Linked DNA regions of Homo sapiens. The protein of the gene in region 1 interacts with the protein of each later gene in a biochemical or structural test. Each region holds a gene or a part of one and is shown in the gene's direction. Other genes may lie near its edges.

What was found.
Region 2: the proteins of NAA10 (region 1) and PGK1 form a complex in vitro, tested with the Homo sapiens proteins (one study listed by BioGRID).
Region 3: of the proteins of NAA10 (region 1) and SNAP25, one has a biochemical effect on the other in vitro, tested with the Homo sapiens proteins (one study listed by BioGRID).
Region 4: the proteins of NAA10 (region 1) and HIF1A form a complex in vitro, tested with the Homo sapiens proteins (4 studies listed by BioGRID and IntAct, with this or other methods).

What each region holds. Positions count from the first base shown.
Region 1 is NC_000023.11:153,932,038-153,938,910, reverse strand, and holds the start of NAA10 (N-alpha-acetyltransferase 10), read left to right. Parts: upstream 1-3,873; 5' UTR 3,874-4,006; coding exon 4,007-4,027; intron 4,028-4,435; coding exon 4,436-4,534; intron 4,535-4,909; coding exon 4,910-4,968; intron 4,969-6,326; coding exon 6,327-6,372; intron 6,373-6,479; coding exon 6,480-6,595; intron 6,596-6,795; coding exon 6,796-6,840; intron 6,841-6,873. Other genes in the region: RENBP (N-acylglucosamine 2-epimerase), read left to right, coding at 3,335-3,422, 3,507-3,625. UniProt on the Homo sapiens protein: Catalytic subunit of N-terminal acetyltransferase complexes which display alpha (N-terminal) acetyltransferase activity. Acetylates amino termini that are devoid of initiator methionine.
Region 2 is NC_000023.11:78,099,126-78,107,495, forward strand, and holds the start of PGK1 (phosphoglycerate kinase 1), read left to right. Parts: upstream 1-5,122; 5' UTR 5,123-5,215; coding exon 5,216-5,280; intron 5,281-8,370. UniProt on the Homo sapiens protein: Catalyzes one of the two ATP producing reactions in the glycolytic pathway via the reversible conversion of 1,3-diphosphoglycerate to 3-phosphoglycerate.
Region 3 is NC_000020.11:10,298,586-10,305,967, forward strand, and holds part of SNAP25 (synaptosomal-associated protein 25), read left to right. Parts: intron 1-682; coding exon 683-827; intron 828-7,382.
Region 4 is NC_000014.9:61,740,312-61,747,693, forward strand, and holds part of HIF1A (hypoxia-inducible factor 1-alpha), read left to right. Parts: intron 1-193; coding exon 194-316; intron 317-443; coding exon 444-877; intron 878-4,393; coding exon 4,394-4,502; intron 4,503-5,379; coding exon 5,380-5,506; intron 5,507-6,622; coding exon 6,623-6,774; 3' UTR 6,775-7,382.

The sequences.
Region 1 (6,873 bases):
GAGGCAGGAGAATCGCTTGAACCCAGGAGGCAGAGGTTGCAGTGAGCCGAGATCGCACCATTGCACTCCAGCCTGGGGGACAAGAGCAAGACTTGGTCTCAAAAAAAAAAAAAACAAAAAAAAAAAAACAGTACAGATGCTGCTGAGATCTATGAGGCAAAAAGGGAAATGGGGGCCCAGCAAAGGAGACAAGAATCAGTGGTGACGCAGGAAGAAAACCAAGCCAGGGGCTCCCTGAAGCCCAAGTGCTAGGAGCAGAGTGATAAGCTGTCTTGACTGCTGCCCAGGAGGCAACTCGAGCTGCTGAACACAGGAAAGGGCATGGCACCCAGTGGAAAGGGCATGGCACCCAGTGGAAAGGGCATGGCACCCAGTGGTGGCAAGGCCTGGGTGGTGAATGAATGAAGATTCATCATGCGTTTCTAAAGCCACGACTCCGACTCCACTGGTGAACCCTGGTACTGCGAGGACTATAGCAGGGGATCTTATTCTGGGGTCTGTGAGCTTCGAAACCGGGGGCGGAGAATCACATCTTTATTTGTACTAACCTCTAACTGAAACTAGCATTTGCTGCCATTATGAGTGGAGGCAATGAACCACATTGGTAATAGAAGTGCCTGGCTTTGTCACCGATAGAAATCCAGATGTGTTTACATTGCATTGCAGTTAGAGAGACATCTGCAAGTATCACATATATTCGTCACTACTTCCAAAGCAGCAGGGTTGTTAGACCTGCAGCTATATCTTAATATTTAATGCATTCATAGAGTGTGTGTTAGGGGCCACCAGTTCTAACTCAAAAATGAAATTGAAGGAATACATTTTAATAAGATATAGATGACATTAAACAATTACAAAAGTTATAATCAACAGGTAAATCGGCTGGGCATGGTGGCTCATGCCTGTAATCTCAGCACTTTGGGAGACTGAGGCGGGTGGATCACCTGAGGTCAGGAGTTCTGGACCAGCCTGGTCAACATGGCGAAACCCCGTCTCTACTAAAAATACAAAAATTGGGCTGGTCGCGGTGGCTCACGCCTGCCATTCCAGCACTTTGAAAGGCCGAGGCAGGTGGATCACTTGAGGTCAGGAGTTCGAGAACAGCCTGGCTGACATGGTGAAACCCCCATCTCTATTAAAAATACAAAAAATTAGCCGGGTGTGGTGGCGGGTGCCTGTAATCCCAACTACTGGGGAGACTGAGGCAGGAGAATCACTTGAACCCGGGAAGCACTCCAGCCTGGGCAACAGGAGCAAAACTCCATTAAAAAAAATAAAAAATAAAAAAAATAAATAAATAAATTAGCCGGGCTTGGTGGCGGGTGCCTGTAATCCCAGCTACTCAGGAGGCTGAAGCAGGAGAATCACTGGAACCTGGGAGGTGAAGGTTGCAGTGAGCTGGGATCACGCCACTGCACTCCATCCAGTCTGGGTGACAAGAGCGAAACTCCGTCTTAAAAAAACAAAAACCAAAAAACTAACCAACAAACAAAAAAACAGGTAAGTCATTATGCATCAACCAACATAACAGAATACAGAAGGCAAAAATCCAGACATTGAAGGAAATTCTTCTTTACCTTCCTGTGTCATGTCAAGCAGTCAAAAAATAAGTAAGGACTTGAACAATGTAACTCAAAAGACAGAATGAATACACACAGAACTAGTTTTTATTTATTTATTTATTTATTTATTTATTTATTTATTTATTTATTTTTGAGACAGGGTCTCTATCGCCCAGGCTGAGTGCAGTGGCACAATCATGGCTCAGTGCAGCCTCAACCTCCTGGGCTCAAGCGATCCTTCCACCTCAGCCACCCAGGTAGCTGGGACTACAGCTGTGTGCCATCACGCCCAGCTAATTCTTTAATTTTTTTTTTGTATAGATGGGGTCTCACTATGTTTCCCAGCCTGGTCTTAAACTCCTGGCCTCAAGTGATCCTCCCGCCTCGGCCTCTCAAAGTGCTGGGATTATAGGCGTGAGCCACTGTGCCCAGCCCAGGACTAGTTTTACTTCCTACAAAGAAGAATACACCAACTCTTATGGGCCACCATTTAAAGAGACATTTTCATAGTGGACTTCAATGTAATTGAGTCCATGATCCTTTTGAGAAGGGGCTGAACTGACAAGCCTCCCTGAGACAGGTGCCCCATGGAATGCTAGTGGAGAGAGAAGGAAAGAGAGTGGAATGGGCACTGGGCAGGGGCAGAGGGAGGAGGAGATGAGTTTGGGACCAATGGTGAGCCAGGACAGGAGTCAGATGAGATTGTGCATCTACTGGAAGACAGGCCTGTGAAGCCGGGAATGGGAGCTCCAAGGGAGTCACTTCTTAAGAGTTTCATGACAGGTCGTCGCCTCCATCAGGGTTCTTTGTTTCTTTTCTTTTCCTTTTTTTTTTTTTTTTTTTGAGACGGAGTCTGGCTCTGTTGCCCAGGCTGGAGTGCAGTGGCGCGATCTTGGCTCACTGCAAGCTCCGCCTCCCGGGTTCACGCCATTCTCCTGCCTCAGCCTCCCGAGTAGCTGGGACTACAGGTGCCCGCCACCACTCCCGGCTAATTTTTTGTATTTTAGTAGAGACGGGATTTCACTGTGTTAGCCAGGATGGTCTCGATCTCCTGACCTTGTGATCCGCCCGCCTCGGCCTCCCAAAGTGCTGGGATTACAGGTGTGAGCCTTTGCACCCGGCCGGGTTCTTTGTTTCTTTGAATCAACGTAACCACGACTACAATCACAATAGAGAACTTTTTTGTTTGTTTGTTTGTTCGTTTGTTTGTTTGTTTGAGATGGAGTCTCGCTCTGTCACCCAGGCTGGAGCGCAATGGCGTGATCTCAGCTCACTGCAACCTCCGCCTCCTGTGTTCAAGCTATTCTCCCGCCTCAGCCTCCCGAGTATACTGCTGGGATTACAAGTGCGTGCCACCACGTCCGGCTAATTTTGTATTTTTAGTAGAGATGAGGTTTCACCATGTTGTCCAGGCTGATCTTGAACTCCTGACCTCAGGTGATCCGCCCGCCTCGGCCTCCGAAAGTGCTGGGATTACAGGCGCAAGCCACAGCTCCCGGCCCGATAGACAACGTTTCTACACCCCAGGGCAGAGTTCTTTCATTCCATCTAGCAGTGTCTCATCCCCTTGCCCAGTCGGTTATATAGTTGTAGCCTGCCTGCTGCGCCCACCCCTGCTTTCATCTTTGTGGAGGACGCAGTGTCGCGGTTAAGATCGCTGGTTCTGGAGCCACGTCACCTGGGGTCAACCCAGGCTCTGACCCCTGGTAGCGATGCAGTGGCATCTGGGCGGGTCCTGCAGGCGCTAGCTGTCACTGTCTCTGTTATTCCAGTTTCGCGATCCCGAGTACGGGGAATGGTTTGGCTACCTGAGCCGAGAGGGCAAGGTGGCCCTCTCCATCAAGGGAGGTCCTTTCAAAGGTGAGTGGGGGAGAGGGCGGGGCCGCAGGGGTTGCGCCTCTCGGCTGCCCCCGGCCCTCACTACCTGCCCGCCTCTACCCGCAGGCTGCTTCCACGTGCCGCGGTGCCTAGCCATGTGCGAGGAGATGCTGGGCGCCCTGCTGAGCCGCCCCGCCCCCGCCCCCTCCCCCGCCCCCACCCCCGCCTGCCGAGGCGCGGAATAAAGGCTGAGTCCGCTCCACCTGCGGCTGTGCGCGCGTCTGTGGGCTCGCGGGAGGGGGGCTGTCGCGCCGAGGGAGGGGCCGGCTCCAGCTCCGGGGCAGCGCCCGCCCCGCCCCCAGGCCCGCCCCGCGCTGACCGGCTCCGCGCATTGGCCCGCCCCGTGCGCTGGCCTGTCCCGCGCATTGGCCAAGCGGCCGGGAGGACGGGCCCGGCGGCCGTGCACTTCCGGCCGGTGGCCGGCCCGGCGCGCACCGCCCCTTCCGCCGTCGCCCAGCGAGCCCAGCTCCGGTCCCAGCCCCGGCCGTCCCGGCGTCGCTTCGGAGCGCGGCGGCAGCTGACTGCGCCTTCACGATCCGCTGGGACCCGCGAGCCCCGCCGCCGTTATGAACATCCGCAATGCGAGGGTGAGCGCCCGGGGCGGGAGGCTGTCCGCGCCGCGTGGGCGCCGGGCCGGGTGGCTGCCGCGCATGCTCCCGAGGGCCCCGGCCGAGCCCGGCCCGGTGGCCCTGAGTGTGCCTGCGGCCGCTGGACCTATGGGGCTGGCCCAGCCCGCCGAAGAGGCCGGGGCGCGGGGCCGGGGCTGCGATTCCCTCCTGTTTGCGTGATGTCGGGCCTCCGTTGGGTGGGCTCCGGGGACCTCCGGGGCGCCCACTCCTGTTCCTGTGCTCCGGGCGTTGTGCAAAGTCAGATCGTCACAGTGCCTGCCCAGCCCCGAGGGAGCGGGGCCGAGCAGACCGACGGGGAGCAGGCTTCTCACCCGTGGTCACCGCCGCCTTAGACTGAGCGCGTTCCACTGCCCTCCTTCCCTGCAGCCAGAGGACCTAATGAACATGCAGCACTGCAACCTCCTCTGCCTGCCCGAGAACTACCAGATGAAATACTACTTCTACCATGGCCTTTCCTGGCCCCAGGTGGGCAGCTTCTGAATTTGGGCATGGGGGAAAGCAGGCCGAGGAAAATCCCATCTGGCCATCTTGGAGGGAGTGGACAAGTCTGTCAGAGCCCAGGGGGCTGTATGGTCGGTGGCGTCCTGGGTGTTTTCAGCTGGCAGACAGGGGCAAAGGAAAAGAAGGCGCCCGAAGGGAGCAGAGAATAGGGGCAGGATCCCCACTTTGCGTCTTCTTTCTGGGTATGGGCAGGGCACAGTGTGGCGAGGGGGAGACCAAGCCACTCAGCCCGGAGGTCATGAGCCATCACACAACTCGCCACTCGTCCAGTTTGTGTCCCTCTAAAGGGCTCTTCTAGCTCCGACAAGAAGTTTTCTCACTCTGTTTTCCTGTCACCAGCTCTCTTACATTGCTGAGGACGAGAATGGGAAGATTGTGGGGTATGTCCTGGCCAAAATGTGAGTCACCAAGGAGGAAGACAGAAGCTACACGTGTCTGGTGGATGCCTCTGTGGGCTTTAAAAAAAATGAATAGGCTTCTTCTTTTCAGTACAGTTGAAAGTTTATAGAAAAATTGAACAGAAAGGACATGGAGTTCTTATAGCACCCCTCAGCATCCCCTCCCTGCCAGCTTCCTCTGTTAGTAGCATGTTGGATTTGTGTGGTCCACTTGTGACAAGTGATAAATGAATGTGATATGTTACTATTATTATTATTACTATTATTATTTGAGACGGAGTCTTGCCCTGTCGCCCAGGCTGGAGTGCAGTCGCGTGATCTTGGCTCACTGCAACCTCCACCCCCTGGGTTCAAGCGATTCTCCTGCCTCAGCCTCCTTAGTAGCTGGGATTACAGGCACATGCCACCACACCTGGCTAATTTTTGTATATTTCAGTAGCAATGGGGTTTCACTACGTTGGCCAGGCTGGTCTCGAATTCCTGACCTCAGGTGTTTCCACCCACCTCTGTCTCCCAAAGTGCTAGGATTACAGGCGTGAGCCACTGCGCCTGGCCGATATATTATTATTAACTAAACCCATAGTTTACATTACTGCACTTCTCTTTGTGTTGTAAGCCCCATGGTTTTGACCAAATGACATGTGTCCACCTTCATATTATCGCAGGATAGTTTCACTGTGTTCCACGCATTCATCCCTCCCTCTCCTTAACCCGTGGCAACCACTGATTTTTTACTGTTTGCATGGTTTTGCCTTTTCCAGGATGTCACAGAGTTGGAATCATACTATATACAGCTTTTTCAGGCTGGCTTTTTTTCACTTAGTAATACACATTTAAGCTTCTGCCTTGTCTTTGCGTGGGTTGACAGCTCATTTCTTTTTTTATTTTTTGAGACAGGGTCTCGCTCTGTTGCCCAGGCTGGAGTGCAGTGGCATGATCATGGCTCACTGCAGCCTCAACCTCCCAGGCTCAAGTGATCCTCTCATGTCTGCCTCCCAAGTAGCTGGGACCACAGGCATGCGCCACCACATCCAGCTAATTTTTTGATTTTTTTTTTGTAGAGACAAAAAAAAGTGTTGTCCAGGCTGGTCTCGAACTCCTGGGCTCAAGCAGTCCTCTTGCCCCGGCCTGCCAAGTAGCTGGAACTATAGGCGTGTGCCCCACACCCGGCAGGCTTGGGGTTTTCAGGCAGCAGAGGGTGGCAGGATCGGCTGCTCTGATCCAAGAGGCTCCCGGCTCTCCCCCAGCTGGGGTCTTAGGGGGCTGTAGTGCATGTCCACTCTACAAATGGCAGGGGGGCTGGAGGTGGCTGTGCCTACACTGAGCTCCTTTGCAGCCTCTCCTTTCTCCCTCTCCAGGGAAGAGGACCCAGATGATGTGCCCCATGGACATATCACCTCATTGGTATGTAAGGTCCACCCAGGCTCTCTGGTGGGGGTGGAAGTGGGGGTTAGTTGGGGCAGCCCTCAAGGTCCCAGTCCCTCACCCCATCTCTGCTCTTCTCCCACCAGGCTGTGAAGCGTTCCCACCGGCGCCTCGGTCTGGCTCAGAAACTGATGGACCAGGCCTCTCGAGCCATGATAGAGAACTTCAATGCCAAATATGTCTCCCTGCATGTCAGGAAGAGGTGGAAGCCGGGCTGAGGGAAGGGGGATTGAGGGGGAGAGATACTGCCTTGACGGGGGTCCTGGGGTACCTCAGCTTTTGGTGAAGATCCAGGAAGTGGGATTGGGGGGAAGGAGGGACCAGGAGGAGGGGCAAGACCTGGACGTGCTACCCCTCCCTGGCCAAATCCGTGCAGCTCAGCAGTGCCTTGTTCCCCTGCAGTAACCGGGCCGCCCTGCACCTCTATTCCAACACCCTCAACTTTCAGTAAGTAGATCTCGATTTTTCTAATGGGCTGGG
Region 2 (8,370 bases), about 76 Mb from region 1:
TATTGTATTCATGTACCATAGTTTAACTAGTCCTTTATTGACAGACACTTGGGATTTTTCCTGTCCTTTGCTATGACAAATGAGAAAATGTACATACAGAAATACATAAAGTCCAGAGATCTATCCTTACATTAGATTCACAGAAATGGAACTGCTGGCTCAAAGGGTAAATCTATTAGATCTTTGTGTCACTCAGAGTTTGCCTGCCATATGTGTGAAGAAGAGATCAAACTTTATCTTTTCTATATAGCTATGCAGTTGTCTCAAGACCATTGATTTAAAATAAAAGTCCATTATTACCCCACTGATTTGACTCGGTACTAATTTTCTACATGCATTTGGTTCTATTTATAGACTTTCTATTCTGTCCCATTGGTCTTTCTACTCATGTTCCAGTGACTCAATGTGTGCTTTTTTCATTTTGCAAGGTTAGCTCACCATAGTTTTATTAGGGAGGGGACTGGTACTGTAACAAAGATTGTACACAAGTAGTTTAAACAAGATAGAAGTTGATTTCTCTGTCATGTTAACAGTATAGAGGTGAGTGGTCCAGGGCTGGTGAGGAAGCACTACCATCACTGAGGCCAAGGTGGCTGCCCCAGCTTCTGCCATCTCCCAGTCAGCAGAAGGCAGAAAAGGGCCTAAAGACAGCATGAACTTTCCTTTTTAGGGTCACTATGTGGAAATGGCTTATATCAGTTGCCCAGAACTTGCTCACATGGTCACTCCAAGCCACAAGGAAGATGGAGAAATGTAGTCTCTTGTTGGAGAGCCATGTGTTTGATTAAAATTTAGGAGTTCTATTAGTAAAGAAAGGGAAAATGGTCTCTGTTACAATGGTGACCTGATGGTAAAGACCCCAATGTAGAAGGTATTGGGGCATTGTAACGTAAATAATGGCATAAACTTTCCTCCAGGAATTCACAATAGAGGATTGGTGCAGAGGAGTCTAGGATTCATATAGGCTCTACCTCTTACCTTCATATTTGTGGGATTCTCTTTGATTAGAATTGTATTTACTATTTTTAGAGCTCTTGCATGCTCTTTCTCTTTTTCTGTATATGTTGCTGTATGTGTGCGTTTTTTTTTCTTTTCTCACTGCTTTACTCACATGTCCCTGGAGGTATCAATCTATTTCTGAGGCAACTATTGGGGCTTGTTAATGAATTAATTGGCAAAAAGAAGCCTCTCAGGGAACAAAAGCCCGACCCCGTTTATACCTCTGAACTTCCTATCTCCCTTCCTTTGATATCTCCCTTGAATGTGATAAAGAATAGACAATTTAAGTGGGTCTTTTATATTTACAGAAGACTACACTTATATATAAAAGGGGATCTGGGTAATAGATAACTAAACTAAAGGATAGGAAAAAGCCACAAAAAGAAAGATCCTATAGCCTTAGAGAGACCATATGATTTATCACCTAAACTGGGATACTTTAAAGAGTTTAAGGAGGCTGGGCGTGGTGGCTCATGCCTGTAGTCCTAGCTACTTGGGAGACTGAGGCAGGAGGATCCCTTGAACCCCAGAGGTTGAGCCTGATTGCAGTGAGCTGATTGCTGGACTGCACTCCAGCCTGGGAGACAGAGCGAGGTCCTGTCTTTAGAACAAGCAAACAAACAACCCTCCCCGCTCCCTCCAAAAAAAATAACCACAAGCAGATTTTTTTGGGGCATACACATATTTTGATCAGTTTCTTAGCTATATCTGTCTCTAATACCATGTTACTGGTATTTTTCTGAAAAATGTATTTTTTTTCAATATGGTCTTATTAAGTTTTTTCATAAAATTGCCTGCAATCTGTCTCCCAGTTGCATTTTATGGTTAACAAATTTAACATTACAGATATCTTCAACTGATTTTTCTCCATAGATCATGTCGACCTAAAAGGAAGAAGTGTAGGCAAAATATGGAAAGGTCATTTGGGCCATGGTTGAGAACTGCAGCCTGGGACACACTTCCAGGTTGCCTTGAAGAGTACTCTGGAGAACAATGGGGAGGTTCAAATTTTTTAAGAAAAAAGGATGAATCAGGAGTGGGGGTGATTGCAAAGTTGTTTGTCAAGAATTCTCATTGGTTTAAAGAAATAACATTGGGCTGGGTGTGGTGGCTCACACCTGTAATCCTAGCAATTTGGGAGGCCGAATCGGGCGGATCATTTGAGGTCAGGAGTTCGAGACCAGCCTGGCCAACAGGGTGAAACTACGTCTCTACTAAAAATACAAAAATTAGCTGGGCGTGGTGGCATGCACCTGTAATCCCAGCTACTCAGGAGTCTGAGGCATGAGAACTGCTTGAACCCGGGAGGCGGAGGTTGCAGTGAGCCGAGATTGTGTCCCTGCACTCCAGCCTGGGCAACAGAGTGAGACTCCGTCTCAAAAAAAAAAAAAAAAAAAAAAAGCCAACAAGGGTGTCTCTCTAGAGCAAACTAGAAAGATGGAATCTCCTATATACATCATAATCTAATCATGGGAGTTATATCTCATCACTTCTGCCACATTCTATTGGTTAGAAGCCAGTCATAGTTCCAGCTCACATTCAAGGGGAGGAAATTATAGAAAGATGTGAACACTAGAGGGCAGAGATCATGGGCACCATCTTAGAATTGGGAAATGGCTCTGAGATTGAGATTTGTGTGCAGGTGGATCACTGGGGGTTGCTTCTGGGAACAAGTCCTGTAAAGGAGTAAGGAAATCAGATTTGGATAGAAAAGGGAGAAGTCTCAATAGAGGCTTCAGCCAACCCCACAGACAGTTCTGAAGCAGAGCTGGTCCTTTAGAGACGTCCTGAAATGAAGCAAAGAAGCCAGGCCTTTGGAACGGCATTAAGCAATCACTAATGGATGCCCCTGGGAAGTCGGTATAACCTTAGGCAAGGCAGCTTCCTTCAACAGAGGGCAGTTTCTGGGGAGAAACTCAGCTGTGAGCTGTCAGCAACTAATACTCCCAGCAGCTAATAATAAGTGCCTCAGTTCTGAAAGAGGGAATCTGAGTGATATATCATCATCACACTTGGTTAACTAGAATATCTCCTCAGTCAGTATATATATTTTCCCAGCACTGTGAATAAAAGTCAGTTGAATGAGAAATTGAAAGTACCTCTGATTGGTCCCTTCCTGCAACCAATCAGGCTGGTGGCAGGCCAAGTTTTCATTTGTATAGGAGTGTAACTTTGTAACTTCACTTCAGCCTCTGATTGGTCACTTTCTGCAACCAATCAGACTGACCATGGACCACTACTTCATTTGCATGGGGTATACACCAAGTGGCTAATGGGAAACCTCTACCGGGTATTTAGACCCCAGAAAATTCTGTAACCAAGCTCTTGAGCTGCTTGCTCAGGCCTGCTCTCACCTTGTGGAGTATACTTTTGAAACCGCCTTTGCAAAAATCATAACTGAGGAAATTATGACAGTGAAAGAGATCAGACCTAACCTACCCTATCTTCCTTCTAACTTCTAAAATGTCTTTGTTCATTCCTGGGTATAGGCCAAACTAGCCTTGGGAAAGAATTTATAGTGTAAACTCTGAGACAAAATTGATAACAGCCCTTTCCCCTTCTTGCTGGGACCAGTCTGCCTTTCTTTGTAGGTGTAACAAATTAGCTACAAGATTATAAATTACAGTTTAGGGGCCATGCAGCCTCTGGCTGCAAGAATCTGAACCTCCCCAAATTGCTTCTGGGAATAACATCACCATTGCAAATCCTAAGATCAGTGCTTGAGATATTTTGCAGACCCTGCATTCTCATGCAGCAGAGGACACCACCCAGACTGATAATCTGGCTCAACTAGCTCCACGATCCCACCCAGGAAGAACTCGCAAGAACTCACTTCGACCCCGTGATTTAATCTTCATCCCGACCAACTAGCACTCCCCACTTTCCGAACCCATACCTGCCAAATTATCCTTAAAAACTCTGATTCCAGAATGCTCAGGGAGACTGATTTGAGTGATAATGAAACTCTGGTCTCCCGCACAGCGCTCAGCGTGAATTATTCTTTCGCCATTGCAATTCCCGTCTTCATAAATCAGCTCTGTCTAGGCAGCGGACAAGGTGAACCCATTGGGCGGTTACACTTTCGTTTTCAATACATCTCTGCTTTTATTGCTTCATTCTTTCTTTGCTTTGTGCATTTCGTCCAGTTCTTAGTTCAAGACGCTAAGAACTTGGACACCCTCCACGGGTAACAGGACTACAGGTGCCCGCCACCACGTCTAGCTAATTTTTTGTATTTTTAGTAGAGATGGGGTTTTGCTATGTTGCTCAGGCTGGTCTCGAACCACTGGGCTCAAGCAATCTGCCGGCCTTGGCCTCCCAAAGTGCCGGGATTAAAGGCGTGAGCCACCGCGCCTGGCCCACTAAACTTCTCTGTGCATCAGTTATTTCATTTGCCTAATGAGGATAACAGTAGTCACTACTGCGTTTTGTGAGCGTTGGTTAATATATGAAAAATGCCACGTGTTTGCCATTAGCATCAATCATGCCATAACCAGAAAAATTACATTGCATTTTTTATTTTAAAAAAGGTGGGGGCCAGAGTGGACCTGGGCCTCTTCCAACTTCTGAGAGGTCTCTATTACTAAGTAAGCCTTAAGAAGCAGAATTCCATGAAGGGAGCTAGGAAACCAGGATTTTCCAAAAGGAGGTGGCATTTGCATTGATCCTGGTAGGGCAGCCTCGAATTCCACGGGGTTGGGGTTGCGCCTTTTCCAAGGCAGCCCTGGGTTTGCGCAGGGACGCGGCTGCTCTGGGCGTGGTTCCGGGAAACGCAGCGGCGCCGACCCTGGGTCTCGCACATTCTTCACGTCCGTTCGCAGCGTCACCCGGATCTTCGCCGCTACCCTTGTGGGCCCCCCGGCGACGCTTCCTGCTCCGCCCCTAAGTCGGGAAGGTTCCTTGCGGTTCGCGGCGTGCCGGACGTGACAAACGGAAGCCGCACGTCTCACTAGTACCCTCGCAGACGGACAGCGCCAGGGAGCAATGGCAGCGCGCCGACCGCGATGGGCTGTGGCCAATAGCGGCTGCTCAGCAGGGCGCGCCGAGAGCAGCGGCCGGGAAGGGGCGGTGCGGGAGGCGGGGTGTGGGGCGGTAGTGTGGGCCCTGTTCCTGCCCGCGCGGTGTTCCGCATTCTGCAAGCCTCCGGAGCGCACGTCGGCAGTCGGCTCCCTCGTTGACCGAATCACCGACCTCTCTCCCCAGCTGTATTTCCAAAATGTCGCTTTCTAACAAGCTGACGCTGGACAAGCTGGACGTTAAAGGGAAGCGGGTCGTTATGAGGTAATTCTGCACGTTTGCCCGCGTGCTCTCTGTGCTCTGTCGCAAACCTCTTTGGCCGGAGCCGACTTGTTCTCTCGTCTGCTCTAAGTTCTTTTAGCTTTTGGCTGGGCCCCAGGGGTCCTAGGCTTGGAGGGCGAGGCTGCTCACGGGTTTGGTGGTTTCTAGCCGCATTTTCCCCAGCCCAGAAAGCACCCGAAGTCACCCTTCGGGGATGGATCCCACTGAGGAAGGGCTGAGATTGCCGCTGGGACCCATTTTGTCCTTTTTCCTATTGGTGAAATGCAGTTCCGTTGCCTCCAGCTCCCAGTCGGCGAGATGGGACTTAATGCTTATCCTGCAAATCTCTAGGCTTCAAGGAAGGGACCTTGAAAGGTCATTTTACTTTCCCTTCCCCCACGCTCCTAGACCGTCGCAGCCAAATGAGAAACGGCCCACATCTCACAGGTTCCTGCACAAAAGGATATTTTTCCAAGAGGATGTTGATTTAACTTCAGGAGTAGACCCCCCCGCCCCCCGCCACTAAAGAATTGGGGTGGGAGGGTAGGGCGGGGCGAACTGGAGGAGGCCCTGCAGAGCTTACGTAACAGGCGTCTGCTGCCCTGCAGCGCGGTATCGTTGGACTCTTGGGCACAGGATTTGCATCAGGATTGTGACATACTAGGTAATGGTAGAGCAGGGTGTGGCTGCTCATACTTGCTGGCCTCCAATCTCATCCCCACGTGTGGCTAGAAAAGTAGAATTTTAAAATTGGGGGAAGTTTCCTCGTGCACTTTGGGTCTCTTACTCTGCGCATGTGGATCTCTAGTCACTTGCCAACACGGTTTCTCTCTTATCTGCCAGAATTGTTGGTAGAGTGGGCAGCTTTTACATTTATCCTTTTTGTCACGTGTGATATATTTGTGCATACCAGGAGCAAGGTGCAGGAGGATGAGTCGGTATGTAACTGATGGACTTGACTGTTCATATACCTTAACAGGATCCAAGAGTGGTGTTTTTGAGGGGTCATAAAGGTTTCTGTTGATAGCATTTTGCAACCTTGACCTTTTTGGGAAGTGGTTGATTGATGGGTAGGTATTTATTTGGCTGGTGTAATCTAGCCCCTTTTCCAATTTGGGCTGGTTCAAATGAGGGCTTGTGTTGGATATTAACAGACACGTAAGTCAGTAGGAGATCTCCCTTTACTCTAACTTTAAACATATGAGGACACGTTTGAGTTAGGGAACTGTATGGGTACCCTAAAAGGACATGTAGCTCTCCTCTTCTCTCTAATTTCACTTTGGTCAATATTTTTGCAGGTAACCGCTGCCCTGCTGTGGAGATAGAAGAACCCAATAATTTATGTCCATGAAAAATACCTGGTTTCCACATTTCCCCAAATGACATAGGCCTTTGTAATCTGGACAAAGTAGGAGTCACAGCCATGTTAGTACTAGAGGAGTGCCCTTTCTGGCCCTCATACAATCCTAAAAAAAGGGGATAGACCCTGTAAAAAACAGGACAGGTGGACATTGGCATGCAACTAGCTTTTAGGTTTTAATTAGTTCCTTGCATCTCCCCTGTGTTCGACGCTGATTCTTCCAGATGCATGGACCAACTAACAGACAAGGAGTGGGACATTATGCTGATAACCTTCCTGTAATTGCAGTCTTGGGCTTTATTTCCTCTCTCTCTAGGGAAACTGGCTTGAGGAAGCTAGCTGGGGGCGGGATTGGAGGAGCTGCTTAACTTTTCTCCCTCTGGACCTAATAAAGTTTCATTTAGCACACGCTAACCCAAAGCCTTGAAATGATTGGCTAGTCCTGTTTTGCTGATGGAAAATGACCTGTTCAGGGTTACTGAACTACCAAGTTGGTGGCAGAGCTAGGAGTAGAATTTAGGTCTCCTTGGCTATCAACTAGATCCTCTGAATATTCGAGACAATGACCAAGGATACGTTGAAATAGAACTTTCTCCCGTAACCTGGATACCTTCTACTTATTTAGGCTGAGGACAGGAAGTTACATGGTTCCCTGATTATTAATGTATTTCTTTTGAACAGAGAGTCACATTGTAGGCCTACTTTTTTGGAGGTGCTTAGGCAGCCATGTGGTGTCAGCTCAATTCCTTTTTGTTTCAACGTGGTGGTTGCTGGCGGTGTTTCCGGAATGGGGCTTCCTGAGTAGTGGCTGCCTCATTTGTCGTCTTTGTCCTGCAGAAGTGAACTATGGTATTTGCTGACTCTTCTGGTCCACTGGTTTGGATTGCCAAGGGAAATTGATTTGTTGAGGTAACATGGGATAGCCAGAAACCTCTGACTTGTTAATTACCAGGTTCCATCTTAGTTTTTTAGGACTCCGCAGTTGACTTTACAGCCTCTTTGAATACACTTCTGCTTATTTTTGTGGTAATTTCCTTTCTTTCTCTCATAGGTTGCCAGTCATCCTTTGCCTGCTTGTAAAGCACTTCCTTTTTGCTTGCTCCTGCCTTTTTTTTTAAACCTTACTGGTTTTCTCCAACTTGTAACTTGTAAAGAAACTGCTTTGATGTAGTGGGAAGAGAAACAGGAAAAAATTGAGAGCAGAGAAAAAGTCACTAAGACACCCACAATATCCCAGTTTTCCATCTGGGGCAGTGAAGCATTGATGGACATGGTTCCTTTGAGAGTTTTTAATGGAACTGGACCTGGGACCTGAGATTTCAGGTGATAGAGACTTGATATTCTTATTCCAGCTAAATCAGTATATTTTTTAATGTTTTATTTTGAAATAAAGATTCATGGGAGGTTACAAAGTTAGAGAGGTCTTGTGTTCAACCCATTTTCCCCCAATGGATGCATCTTACCTAATTATAGAACAATATCAAAAGTAGGAAATTGACATTGGTATAAAGTGTGTATGGTTCTATGCCATTTTATTACGTGCGTAGATTTGTGTAACCGCCACCACAATCAAGATACAGAACTATTAGATCACCACCAAGATCTCCTTCATGCTACCTCTTTATAATAATAACCACCCCCCTTCCTGACTCCTGGTAACTACTGATCTGTCCACTGTTTCTAAAATTTTGTCACTTCAAAAATACTATACAGATTGAATCACATGGTATATA
Region 3 (7,382 bases), on another chromosome or scaffold:
TTCACAGTTTTTGACTCTGAAATCACCTATGCACCATGCCACTAAAAAACCCATGTTATTAACATATGAGTAAATAAAAATCATCTTGAACAAGTAGCTCTCCTTGGAGTTCCTGGGAGCAAGCAGGGTTAAGGGGCAAACTGTAATTATCATTACTCTTCCCATTGGTGTCAATCCCAAGTGTGAAAAGAGATGAGCACAGAGACTCTGACTTAGCACAATAAGCTTTTTATTGTATTCTTAATTTGAGTCTTAGAAATTTTGAGACTTAATTTGAGTCTTAGAAATATTAAGAATATTCTTAGAAAGAAGAATATCGTTTCTAATTCCATCTTCGTGCTCTGACCTAAAGTCCTTTCAAAGAAAATGTTTTCATCCTTAAACAATAAAAATTGAAATAAACATATGAAGGGGAAACAACATAATGGAAGGAGTGAGAAAGTAGATAAATTAATCTATTTAATATACCTTCTTTAAGAATAGAAATTCAAGGGTTCAAAAAGCAATTTTAAACATTTTTTTTAAATGTATGAAAGCTAAAATGTGTTTTTGTACTGGATGGAGATTAAAGATAGATAAAGTTGATGCCCAGAGGACGACAGATTTCCACTATGCTTTGGGTCCTTGGTATTCAATATGTTTTCCACCCTCTGTCTTCTAAAACTTGCTCTTTGGATCCCAGGGTAACAAATGATGCCCGAGAAAATGAAATGGATGAAAACCTAGAGCAGGTGAGCGGCATCATCGGGAACCTCCGTCACATGGCCCTGGATATGGGCAATGAGATCGATACACAGAATCGCCAGATCGACAGGATCATGGAGAAGGTGAGCACGTGGCAGTCAGCAAGTCCCTACTGCGAGTCACTTCTGAAATGACCAACAGGAAGTGTGAAGGGCATAACAAGATCCTCAAAACACGACCTTGGATTCAGGCGCACTGATAGCTGGAAATGTTCTTCATTTTCCAAGAGAAAAATATAGGACTCAGCAACAGAATTGGAGTGAAAATAAGAGGGTCAAATTTAATCCAGCAAATATTCTCAAAGGCTCCTGTCAGCCAGGCATTGTGCTAGGCACTGTGGGCCATGTACACATGAGAAAGACACCACCCCTACTGCCAAGAAATTCACGGCCTATGGGAGGCTACGAGCCTCCAGATGAATTTTCTATCACTCAAAATATAATTCACTAAGAGATCCACAGATAAAATGCTAAACAAGGTTAGATAAGGAAAGATCTCAAGAGGCAAAGTTCGGGAAAATCTCAGAATAAGTTGACTTTGAATTGAATCTTGAAGGATGGTTAGTATTAATAGTTTGTCAAGTGGAGGTGGTGAAGGGATAGAATCAGAAAATGGGAGAAAGAATAGTCAGTATAGCCAGGACATGATTATGAGCTTTGCTTTTATAAATGCCAAAGCTTTAATGAGAATTCAAAAATATCCAGGTTCCATTTCCAGTTTAACAGTTCACATCCCCAGTTCTAAAAACAGGGAATTTTATATGATGAAATTGAGTTTACACAAGGACACCAGACTTGGCTCTAAGATCCACCATGTCAACGTGGGCCATAAGAAAGACTGGAGGGAGTAGACTGGGAAGGGGTGGGTTTGGGGGCTTAAAATTAGAAGAGATTGGAAAGAAACACTGGAACGTTCCTATAAAGAGACCTAGGGCACCAAAACCTGATATTCTACAACACAGAACTCCGACATAATTTATATTTCCATGTTTCATGCCCTTTCCTCAATCAGTAGGGTCTTGAATATTGATTACAAACTCTTATGTCCAAATGCTAAAAAGGAGAAAAAGAGACATTATAGATTTAACGATAATTGTACATCTATAATCTACTCAATGTGGGTAACTTATGTTGTGTGTTTATTCCCTGGGAGACGTTGAAGTTCTTTGTCTGATATCCTAAATTTTCTTATAATAATTCATTCCATTTTGGTGAGCAGAGAAGGATACTTTTAAGATTTTTAGAATCATAAATCTAAATAGTAGTTTCTTGGTATGCAAGCAACCTCCAATGACTTGAAAAAGGAGTAAGTAGGCATAAAGGGAACACTTTGTCCTGTTGTGTTGTACATACTCCATGTTAAAAATATCTGATTGCATATTTTGCCTGATCAGTATGAAAACTACGCAAACTTTAGTGTTGGTTGGCAAAATACTTGTGCTTTGCTTACTTTTGCAAGTAATGGCATGCTTATCGTTGTTAAGAAGGCTTTCATATGATAAAGCTTTTAAAGCTGTGTAAATCAATAGATATTAGAATAATAATGAGAGTTTCAAAACTCACTAGAGCCAACACAAGCTGACCTAACCCATTACGGCCCAGAATAATGAACTAAAAAATCATTGCTGAGCTGCCCTCCAACAGAAAAAACAATTTGAAAAAAACAGGAAGTATTCATTTTCTATTAATGGACCCACTTTACTTGCAGATGCAGCTAGATAATGCATCAAAGCCAATTAGGGTTCCAGAAGGAGCGTCTTTACTAATAGAAGGGTCAAACTCTTATTGACAGAGTTGAACTTTAAGCAAGAAAATGTGTTCCTGGAAAGGCAAGTGGCATCTTGATTCTGCCACTTTGAATTTCTAGTTCTCATCTTTAGGGAGAAGGTTTTTCTTCTACGCCCAGTGTACTATAAAGACAGAGACATATGCAGCTACAAGGTTTAATCAGAAGCCAGGCAGGTGGATGGATAATGACTATTTCAATTTGTATCATTCCTTGAGTGCAGAATCATTTAAGTGGGAGAAGGGTCTAATTGCCTTTGAATAACTAGTTTCCAGTCAGCACTTTAAATAGCCCCTTTTTTTTCCAGAATCAAAATCCACACATGATTTAAATAGAGCCCACTTCAACCCAGCATTGCCCCAAATGATCATGTCGCATGAACTGCACAATTATTAATAGATTTCCACCTTCTCATTGAAGTTCTCATTTCTGATAACGGGACAGTATGTGGAAGTTTCCTGCATATCTAAGATGTAATTGCAATCACACTGTAGGGGTAAGGAGAGTCTTATGATGTTTCTCTCATAATCTCTCATGACCCCAACAGCAACCTTTACCCAGCTCTATCAATCATGATCTTTTCTCATCACTTGGATCAATAGTGAAGTTTTGGGAGTCCTTAACAATGAGATTTTCAATACATCCTCATGGATTGTCAAGAAATTACTTTATTTAAAAATCTCGTTTTCTGCTTAAGGGTATTTATGTATATAAATAATAACCTTATATATATAAATAAATAACTATATATATTATATAATATATAATATATATATTATATGTATATGGTTATTATATATATATAAAAACCATATATAAAAATAACCATATATAGATATACCTTCTAAGGTTAAAAACATAATTTTTTCAGAAAACTTACTGAATTGGAAGCAAGCCTATATCAGAGGGTTTATGGGAACTGTTGCTAAGGAAATACCTTAGCAATGTTCAAACTTTGATTTAAAGTTATCAGTGGTAAGTTAGGCATGCAGTCCCAGCTACTCCAGAGGCTGAGGCAGGAGAATTCCTTGAGCCCAGGAGTTCCAGGCTGCAGTGAGCTATGATCGTGCCACTGCACTCGCACTCCAGCCTGGGCAACAGAGCAAGATCCCATCTCTAATAAGTAAATATATAAATAAAAATAAAGTTGTCAGTGGTAGATGACAGGCACACGTTGGAATACAGTGAGGCTGATTCTTTAGCAGTCCTCACATTCTTCTATCAGTGAGAAAACACAGCATTTGAGAGCTAAGACTTTGAGTTCTAACAGGGTTTTGCCATTCACCAGCTCTGTGACCTGATTGCCTCACCTGAAGGATAGTAAGAGAACTGTTCAAACCTAGGATCAGAACAGGCTGGAAGTATGAACTGGGTTCTAAAAGTCACCTGGCATGGTCTGAAGTTGAAGAGATTCCCGGAGCGTTCAGAAGATGGGCTGAACAGCTCCTTCTAAACTTTTACTGGCTCTTTGGTGGTCATCCTGGCCTTCTCACAAGGACAAACATGTAACATATGTTGGGCACTCCAGCAAATTTAGAATTTTCTAAATAGAAATATAAAAATTGGAATGGGACAGCCATCATAAATAAAGTCCTACAGCATATAAGTAGGGTGATCATAGGGGCATTCTCCAAATACCAGGAAGACATCTACAAGGAGATTCCAGACTTTTTTTTTTTTTTAAAAGAAGCTAATTCTTTTATATAATAAAGGGGCAGTACTTTCTGTGTCAAATATTGCATGGGGTGGAATTTTCATATGCTTCAGAAGTAAGTTAGGTGGAAATCACAGATGCTCATTGAACATAAGTCTGTTTCAGCTCCTCCCAGATCCTTTAAGGATATACAGAGTAACCTCATGCTCTACTTCAAATATCCCCAGGTGAAGGCCCCTCAGTGCATTCTTGTACAGGAGATCCTAGAATGTTTGCGCTCAGGAATGCCATCATTTTAAAATGAATTATTTTTCTCATTTGAGCTTTTCAGAGCATTTAGTCTGGCAACATAATAATTCAATCTACAGGAACATTTCACATTGCTCTGATCCTGTAACTTTCCTTTGCACTGAAGTGTCATTATTTCTGATACCATTTGTAGCTGGAAAGGGAGGGCTTAAGAACCAAGTAAAATTGGTGAGATTATCCATTTTCCAATTGAGAAACCTGAGGTCAAAAATGTGAGTCTGTAGTTCAAAACAATCAAAATCAATGCCCTATCTTACTATGTAAATACTGATTTTAAAAGACAAGTGTCAATTATCCAAACAGATGACAGAGAACCATTGCCAGGTATTCAAAGTTATGATTAATCTGGAAATATGTTTGTTTTAACTTTGCAAATTTCTATTTGAACATGGATAATTCTAATGTCCTGAGAATTCACGATATGAACTGAATACAGAAGACTCAGCTCAATAAAAATTGGGAAGTACAGCACCACAATAGGTACAAAGCTGGTAATCATTGAGTGATACTGGTTGAGAGAAAAACAGTTTGGTTTCCCCACACTGCCTGGCAGCCTCCTCCTCTTCTTCCCAGGCTGTAGAAGGATAGACAGCATTACCAGTCAGGGAAGGACAAAAGAAAAGCCTCCATAGAATCGTTGTCTTCACCTCTGGTTGCTGATGCATTTTTCTCAGTGGTGATGGGAATCATTCATTTTCTGGAATTTAAAGATTTATGCTGGTAGCAGCCCTAGGTTTCATGCTGCATATACAGCAAACATAACCCAAGCAGTAAAGAGATCAACCAAGAGATTAAAGCCAGCCAGTTACAAAATCATAGTAAATGTGCATCTGTTAAAGAAAAGACAGTTATTAAACTCATAGAAATGAATCTTCAGAAATGCAACTTAAAAACTATTAAGCATCCCAGAAGCAAGCCAAGTTCTCATACGGTAACAATAATTGCAAGATAAACTAATGAGCCCTTCGTTTTGCAAAACATTATTCCAAGCACATTATGTGTATAAACTCATTTGATCTCAGCAAATTGAATAGTAAGTGATGAATAGTGTGGACTCTGACTCCAGGTTGCTAGCATTCAGACTCTGGTTTCTCCATTTATTAGTACTAAGACTTCAGACAAATTCCCCAGATCGTTTCTGACTGCTTTTCTCATTTGGAAAAGTGAGCTAATAATAGTACACACTTTATAGTTGATATTGTTAATCTTGATGTTGTCAAAGTTTAATGAGTGGAACAAAGTACAGTTGACCCTTGAACAACATGGAGATTTAGGGTGTCAACCCCCATGCAGCTGAAAATTTTTTGACTCCCCCAAAATTTAACTACTAGTAGCCTACTGTTGACTGGAAGCCTTAATGACATAAAAAGTCCATTAACATCTATGTTTTATGTATTATTTACTGTATTCGTATGATAAAGTAAGCTGGAGAAAAGAAAATGTTATTAAGAAAATCATAAGGAAGATAAAATACATTTATAATACTATGCTGTATTTATTGATACCATCAGTTTATATCATTTGTTTACAAGATGAATCATCAGTCTGAAATCTTCAGTACACATTAAGCAATTCAACTTTTTCTTGAAATGTCGTGACTTTTTTTTGCTTTTTGGGAGCACTGCTAGCATCACTGGTGGCACTTTGTATGGGTGCATGATGTTATTCAAGGTTTACAGTATTGCACTAAACATGATTTTTTTTAAATGTGAAACTGCAAGAGATCACTTTTTACTGCACTATGCAATTTACTGGAGAGATGGTGAGGATGATTAGTATCACAGAGCATTTTAAACGGATGCTCACAACACTTGAGTTCACCACAATAATAGGAGGTGGCTATGAAATTATTAGAGTAGTACAGTATGGACTACAGTTAATTTTATACAATTATGATTTAATACTTCACCTTTACATTTCTCTCAACTGCAAATAGGCCCATGTATGGTCTATATTTGTTTAAGTCTCATCAATTTTAACTTTTCATAGTAGATTTATATGTATTTTATGATAGTAAATAATAGACTAGACTAGTATCTACATATATTTTATCCATTCATGACATGCCTAATTTTTTCTAAATTTTCTCAATATTTCTAAGTAACACATTCATCTGCAAGTTTGTCTTAATTGTTGCAAATCTCCAAAGCATTTTCCAGTGTATTTATTGAAAAAAAATCCTGGCCAGGTACAATGGCACATGCCTGTAATCTCAGCATTTTGGGAGGCTGAGGAGGGAGGACTGCTTGAGCCCAGGAGTTTGAGACCAGCCTGGGCAACATAGTGAGATCTCATCTATACAAAAAATAGAAAAATTAGCCAGGCATGGTGGCATGCACCTGTGGTCTTAGCTATTTAGGAGGCTGAGATGGGAGGCTCAGTTGAGCCCAGGCAGTCAAGGGTGCAATGAGCTATGATCACACCGCTGTTCCCCAGCCTGGGCATCAGAGCAAGACCCTGTCTCAAAAAAAAGGAAGAAAGAAATTCACACAAAAGTGGATCCACACCATTCAAACCCATGATGTCCAAGGGTCCACTGTACATGCTCATGCTCATTAGCAATATTTTTTATCATCCAGGTTGGAGAAGAGAAAGCTGAGCCCCCAAGATGTAATTTGTTCAAAGGGACACTGCTAATAAATTAGCCATGGTTTCAATCCTACAGTATAAGAAGTGTAATTCAACTTGGTCCAACAGATGTGAATGCCTACCACAGAAGTCATTGAGTGTCTTTCTAGGATAGAAAGATAAATCATATATAAGCCTACGCTCTCTGGTAGGGAAAATTATTAAAAATGAAAATTAAAAAAGCAATGATTCTGAAAAAATATATTCGTTCATTAAAAAAAAAAAATGAAAATTAAGCTTCTACGGTCACATTCAAATAGAG
Region 4 (7,382 bases), on another chromosome or scaffold:
ACCTTGGCTTCCCAAAGTGCTGGGATTACAGGCGTGAGCCACTGAGCCCGGCCTAGTTAAATAAAATTTGATAAACACGATGGACTTGGTTGTGTGTTTTCTGGTTTTTCTGAGATCTAGTTTGAAAATTCTGACAACTAGCAAAGTATATGGAAGCTTCTTCAGGAAATAGTAAACATATTTCTTTTTACAGCCTAATAGTCCCAGTGAATATTGTTTTTATGTGGATAGTGATATGGTCAATGAATTCAAGTTGGAATTGGTAGAAAAACTTTTTGCTGAAGACACAGAAGCAAAGAACCCATTTTCTACTCAGGTATATGAACTTATTTGTTTTATATTAAATTTCATTAATTTTTAGTCTGAAGTGACTTTGAGTTTCACTTGTTTTTTATTTATAAGGTGTGGCCATTGTAAAAACTCATGTATTTGCTGTTTTAAAGGACACAGATTTAGACTTGGAGATGTTAGCTCCCTATATCCCAATGGATGATGACTTCCAGTTACGTTCCTTCGATCAGTTGTCACCATTAGAAAGCAGTTCCGCAAGCCCTGAAAGCGCAAGTCCTCAAAGCACAGTTACAGTATTCCAGCAGACTCAAATACAAGAACCTACTGCTAATGCCACCACTACCACTGCCACCACTGATGAATTAAAAACAGTGACAAAAGACCGTATGGAAGACATTAAAATATTGATTGCATCTCCATCTCCTACCCACATACATAAAGAAACTACTAGTGCCACATCATCACCATATAGAGATACTCAAAGTCGGACAGCCTCACCAAACAGAGCAGGAAAAGGAGTCATAGAACAGACAGAAAAATCTCATCCAAGAAGCCCTAACGTGTTATCTGTCGCTTTGAGTCAAAGGTATTTATATGTAACATTCAAGTTATAGTTCTTTTATTATTTTTGAGATAAATGTATGTGATAGTACATGATTTTTAAACTTATAGCAAACTTTCTGATATATATGCCCTAACGCAAATTCTTGAGAACTCAAAAAACTTTCTAAATTAACCTCATATATTTTTTCTTTTTCTTTCTTTTTTTTTTTTTTGAGACAGAGTCTCGCTTTGTCGCCCAGGCTGGAGTGCAATGGCATGGCACCATCTCAGCTCACGGCAACCTCTGCCTCCTGGGTGCAAGAGATTCTCCTGCCTCAGCCTCCCGAGTAGCTGGGATTACAGGCATGCACCACCACGCCCGGCTGATTTTTTTGGTATTTTTCATAGAGACAGGGTTTCTCCACGTTGGTCAGGCTGGTCTCAAACTCCCGACTTCAGGTGATCCGCCTGCCTCAGCCTCCGAAAGAGCTGGGATTACAGGTGTGAGCCACCATGCCCGCTCCTATTTTTTCTAAAATAATTATAAATTCTAAAATTACCTATCTAAATGGAGGAGGGTCTTCTGACACCTTTAAAATAAAATCCAGCTCAGTACTGTAAATGTGTTTACAGAACTTGTTTAAAGTTCTTACAGTTGTTTAAATCAGACTAGTTAACTACCCTCACTACTTAGATGCTTCCATTTCTTAGAGCTCTTTTTTAAGCTTATCTGAAGAAAAGCCCTTCCAATTTAAGGGTTATTTCCAATTGCACATTCCAAATTGAGCCTTCCATCTTCAGCATTCAATATAGATATTTACAGGCCCCTCTTTTAAAATTTTATTATAGTTAACTTGTATTAAAGTTGCTTTTATTTTTCATTACGTATTTGTAGAACATTAGCTATATATATATTGCAGGCTACATAGGTTTTCAAACTGTACAACAGGAATCTAAGCATGAATTGTTACTTCTATGGAGCTAGTTCAAACAAACATATGGACATGACCCAATTTTTAAGTTATACTTTCTGTATATAATTTGTAAGGGGATTTCACATATTTTAAGTTTGAGGCTATAGCTAGAAGAAATTAAGTTTTATCTAATAAGTGTGTGGAAAAGGGAAATGATTCCTTCTCTACTATGTCTAGACTAAGCCAGATATCAATAGCAATAGGAAAGAACCACTGTCGTAGCCAGAACACATAGCTTTTTTCCCTGCCTAACATTCCCACCTTGACCTAGAGTGCTGGGAGAGGTCTTTTCCCTAAGCTTGGAAAAGACATTGGGGCTTTAGATGAACTCAGAAGTACTTTACATTACTTTATTTACTGTGTCACTTACTCACTTTTGACTCTGAGCTCCACGAGGGCAATCACAGTGTCTTGGGCATTTTAGTGATACTAATACTTAGCTCATGACCTAATGTGTAGTACTTCCTCAATAAATGGTTGTTGAGGCAGGGCGCAGTGGCTCATCACTGTAATCTCAGCACTTTGGGAGGCTGAAGCGGGTGGATCACCTGAGGCCAAGAGTTTCAGACCAGCCTGGCCAACATGGTGAAACCCGGTCTACTAAAAATGCAAAAATTAGCTGGGCGTGGTGGCACGTGCCTGTAATCCCAGCTACTTTGGGAGGTTGAGGCAGGAGAATTGCTTGAACCCTGGAGGTGGAGGCTGCAGTGAGCCGAGATCGTGCCATTGCACTCCAGCCTGGGCGAGAAGAGTGAAACTCGGTTTCAAAAAAAAAAAAAAAAAAAAAAGTTGTTGGACTGACAGATGCATGAATACAGTAGTAAAAATGACAATCACTTATAAGTTACAGTTTACTATCAGCTACAGAGGATGGGATATCCAGTTTTCTGAACAACTGTTCTCTTGTACTTGTCAAAGCCAAAGTGTAACAACACATCAAGTCACTTTAGCAATTTATTTTTGAGACGGAGTTTTGCTCTTGTTGCCCAGGCTGGAGTGCAATGGCGTGATCTCGGATCTTGGCTCACCGCAACTGCCGCCTCGCTGGTTCAAGCAAATCTCGTGCCTCAGCCTCCCGAGTAGCTGGGATTACAGGCATGCACCACCACACCCAGCTAATTTTGTATTTTTAGTAGAGACAGTGTTTCTCCAGGTTGATCAGGCTGGTCTCAAACTCCCGACCTCAGGTGATCCACCTGCCTCAGCCTCCCAAAGTGCTGGGATGACAGTTGTGAGCCACTGTGCCCAGCTAGCAACTGTTTTTAAACATTAGTTCCAATGTAGTGTACACTGAAAACTTTTATGAAAGGAATTTCAAAAATTAAGATAAACCATTAAAAACGTAATTACTAAGTACTACTACTACTACAATGATATTTACATAATAGACTGAGTTACATTTCATAAAGACAATATATCTGTATAAGAATTTTTAAACTTCCCTGTCTATATAATAGAAGTTTTAGAGAAATTTTTTAAAAACCAAAGAAAACTGCAAAATAAGATCACTTACCTATTTGGCATTCTCAACTGTCTGGAACAGCAAGGAGCCATTATGATTATGCATTTGGTTTGTGGGGTGTCTTGAAAAGTCAAAATAATGTAACAAAGCTGATGTACTTTACTCATTAGAACAATTCTTCACAATTTAATATTAATTTTAGATATACATAGTTCATGTTTGATAACCAGATCAATACTGAGTGAAAAATAGCATAGTGGGAAGAGCAGGGGAGGGGAGGTAGGGATCTGGAGACCTAGAGTGTACTTCCATATTGCAACTAGTGAGCAGTAGGACTTTGAGAAAGTTACCCAATAGGCCTCAGGGTTCTAATTTATAAAATGGGTATGATATGCCTGCCTTATCTGTCTTGGGAACTTAAGTAAGGTTAAAATGAACTAATGAACTTGAAATGTTTTATAAACTGAAAATGCTATACGAATGTGAGATTGATCTTGTATTTCAATAGTCCCAACAATATCACTGCATTGTTATATTAGGTGGAATAAAAGGACAATATTTAACTGTTTTGACTCTACAATAGTGTCAATTTAGTTGTGTTCAGCTCTATTTTATAAAATAGGGATACGCATACTGTAGAAAATTTCCTGTTAAATTAAGCTTTGACGGCCAGGTGCTCACGCCTGTAATCCCAGCACTTTGGGAGGCCAAGGTGGGCAGATCACTTGCGCTCAGGAGTTTGAGACCAGCCTGAGCAACATAGTGAAATCCTGTCTCTACAAAAATATGTATATATAAATTAGTCATAATCCCAGCTACTTGAGAGGCTGAGGTGGGAGGATCACTTGATTCCAGAGGCAGGGCTTGGTTGCAGTAAGCAGAGATCACGTCTCTGCACTCCAGCCTGGCTGACAGAGTAAGACCGTGTTTCACCAAAAAAAAAAAAAAAAAATTAAGCTTTTACTTTTAAGATGATAAACTTTAGTGATCAGGAAAGTTATCTTATGTATATTATATTCCTTAATATTGGAGAACTAAAGAATTATGTATTTTCTTTAAAAGCGCTCACTGGATATTTTTTTTAAAAACGCTATATTTTCATTTAGAATTTTTTTCTTTTCAGAACTACAGTTCCTGAGGAAGAACTAAATCCAAAGATACTAGCTTTGCAGAATGCTCAGAGAAAGCGAAAAATGGAACATGATGGTTCACTTTTTCAAGCAGTAGGAATTGTAAGTATGAGTAGTAGGTTTTGCTTTTCTAGCTAATGTGCTATTTCGTGTGTGTGTGTGTGTGTGTGTGTGTGTGTGTGTTTCCACGTTTCTTCCAAATAGTAAAGTTATATTTTCAGAAGTTATACATTGGGTTTTTTTACTCTGTATGCACTGGTTTTTAAAAATACAAATGTTTAATACATACATTCTTGGTATAAAAATTCCAAACAATTCCAGTGTATTTTGAGTTAAAAAGTGAAGTTCTCCCCTTACTCCACCCTGAATATCACCACCAATCTCATTCTCTTCCCTTTAAGTTACTTTGCCTTATTAAAAGAACTGCTATTGGCCAGGCACAGTGCCTCACGCCTGTAATCCCAGCACTTTGGGAGGCCAAGATGAGGATCACTTGAGGTCAGGAGTTCGAGACCAGCCTGGCCAACTTGGTGAAACCCTGTCTCTACTAAAAATACAAAAATTAGCCAGGCGTGTTGGTGCACAACTATAATCCCAGCCACTCTGGAGGCTGAGGCAGGAGAATAGCTTGAACCCGGGAGGTGGAGGTTGCGATGAGCTGAGATCAGGCCACTGCACTCCAGCCTGGGTAAGAGAGTGAGAGTCCATCTCATATTTAAAAAAGAACTGCTATGTTTTGGGGTAAGTCAATGGTGGTATAATACATTCTGATATTTTCAAACTAAATTAACTGGAAAGTATTTATAGACAGAATGGTCATAATGGATGACAAATAACTTAAGAAAGAATTCAAAATAATTTAGGGTAGTATTTAAGAAACTGCCTATAATGTTATTAAATTTACACCAATTTCAAGGTTTTTGGTTGTTTAAAAAAAAAATTCAACAAACTAAACTTGAAATAACTTTACTGTTTATAGGGAACATTATTACAGCAGCCAGACGATCATGCAGCTACTACATCACTTTCTTGGAAACGTGTAAAAGGATGCAAATCTAGTGAACAGAATGGAATGGAGCAAAAGACAATTATTTTAATACCCTCTGGTTAGTTTATTCTTTTTGACCTTGAACATCACAAAGACAAAATACATGAAACATTTTTATTTAGGAGCTTTAATCTAAGTGAGAATGACTTTGGTTCCTTAGCAAGATTAAAAAGTAAAGTTGTGGCTGGGCGCGGTGGCTCACACCTGTAATCCCAGCACTTTGGGAGGCCGAGGCAGCCAGATCATCTGAGGTCAGGAGTTGGAGACCAGCCTGGCCACCATGGTGAAACCCCGTCTCTACTAAAAATACAAAAATTAGCTGGGCGTGGTGGCGGGCGCCTGTAATCCCAGCTACTTGGGAGGCTGAGGCATGAGAATTGCTTGAACCCGGAAGGCAGAGGTTGCAGTGAGCCAAGATGGCACCACTGCACTCCAGCCTGGGCGACAAGGGTGAGACTCTGCCTCAAAAAAAAAAAAAAAAAAAAGTACAGTTGTATTTCATGTGATGGTCTTAATACAGAGATTAACATTTCAAGGTGGAGCTTTTCATTTTTAGTAATTTTCTTTGATTTCTCTATGTCCATGTGCTGTCAATATTGATAGAAGCTGAAATTTGTGAACTTTTATGACTTCTTTTTTTTTTTTTTTTTTTTTTGAGACAGGGTCTCGCTCTGTTGCCCAGGCCTGGAGTGCAGTGGCATGATCATAGCTCACTGCAGTCTCAAACTCCTGTGCTCAAGCTCAAGCAATCATCCTACCTCAGCCTCCTGAGTAGCTCGCACTACAGACATGCCTCACCACACCCGGTTGCTTTTTGTAGAGATGGGGTCTCACTATGTTGCCTAGGCTGGTTTCAAACTCCTGGCCTCAAGTGATCCTCCTGCCTCAGCCTGTGCTAGGATTACAGGCATCAGCTTTGATGCCCACCATATTTATGCCTTTTTCCAAATTGTTATTTCTTTGTGCCTTTATTGTATCCTGTAAACATTTCTGACACAGCAACAGTATCACTGGATTATACTTACTTTTTAACATAGTTGTGGTTTTGCCAGGTAAACTAAAAACCCTTCCAGAATTTTGCTTTATTTTCTATGATACCTAACACATTGTGGGTGTTTAATAAATATTCATTGACTAGATGAATGTATACTTAGGTATCTCTTTTGTTTTTCAGATTTAGCATGTAGACTGCTGGGGCAATCAATGGATGAAAGTGGATTACCACAGCTGACCAGTTATGATTGTGAAGTTAATGCTCCTATACAAGGCAGCAGAAACCTACTGCAGGGTGAAGAATTACTCAGAGCTTTGGATCAAGTTAACTGAGCTTTTTCTTAATTTCATTCCTTTTTTTGGACACTGGTGGCTCATTACCTAAAGCAGTCTATTTATATTTTCTACATCTAATTTTAGAAGCCTGGCTACAATACTGCACAAACTTGGTTAGTTCAATTTTGATCCCCTTTCTACTTAATTTACATTAATGCTCTTTTTTAGTATGTTCTTTAATGCTGGATCACAGACAGCTCATTTTCTCAGTTTTTTGGTATTTAAACCATTGCATTGCAGTAGCATCATTTTAAAAAATGCACCTTTTTATTTATTTATTTTTGGCTAGGGAGTTTATCCCTTTTTCGAATTATTTTTAAGAAGATGCCAATATAATTTTTGTAAGAAGGCAGTAACCTTTCATCATGATCATAGGCAGTTGAAAAATTTTTACACCTTTTTTTTCACATTTTACATAAATAATAATGCTTTGCCAGCAGTACGTGGTAGCCACAATTGCACAATATATTTTCTTAAAAAATACCAGCAGTTACTCATGGAATATATTCTGCGTTTATAAAACTAGTTTTTAAGAAGAAATTTTTTTTGGCCTATGAAATTGTTAAACCTGGAACATGACATTGTTAATCATATAATAATGATTC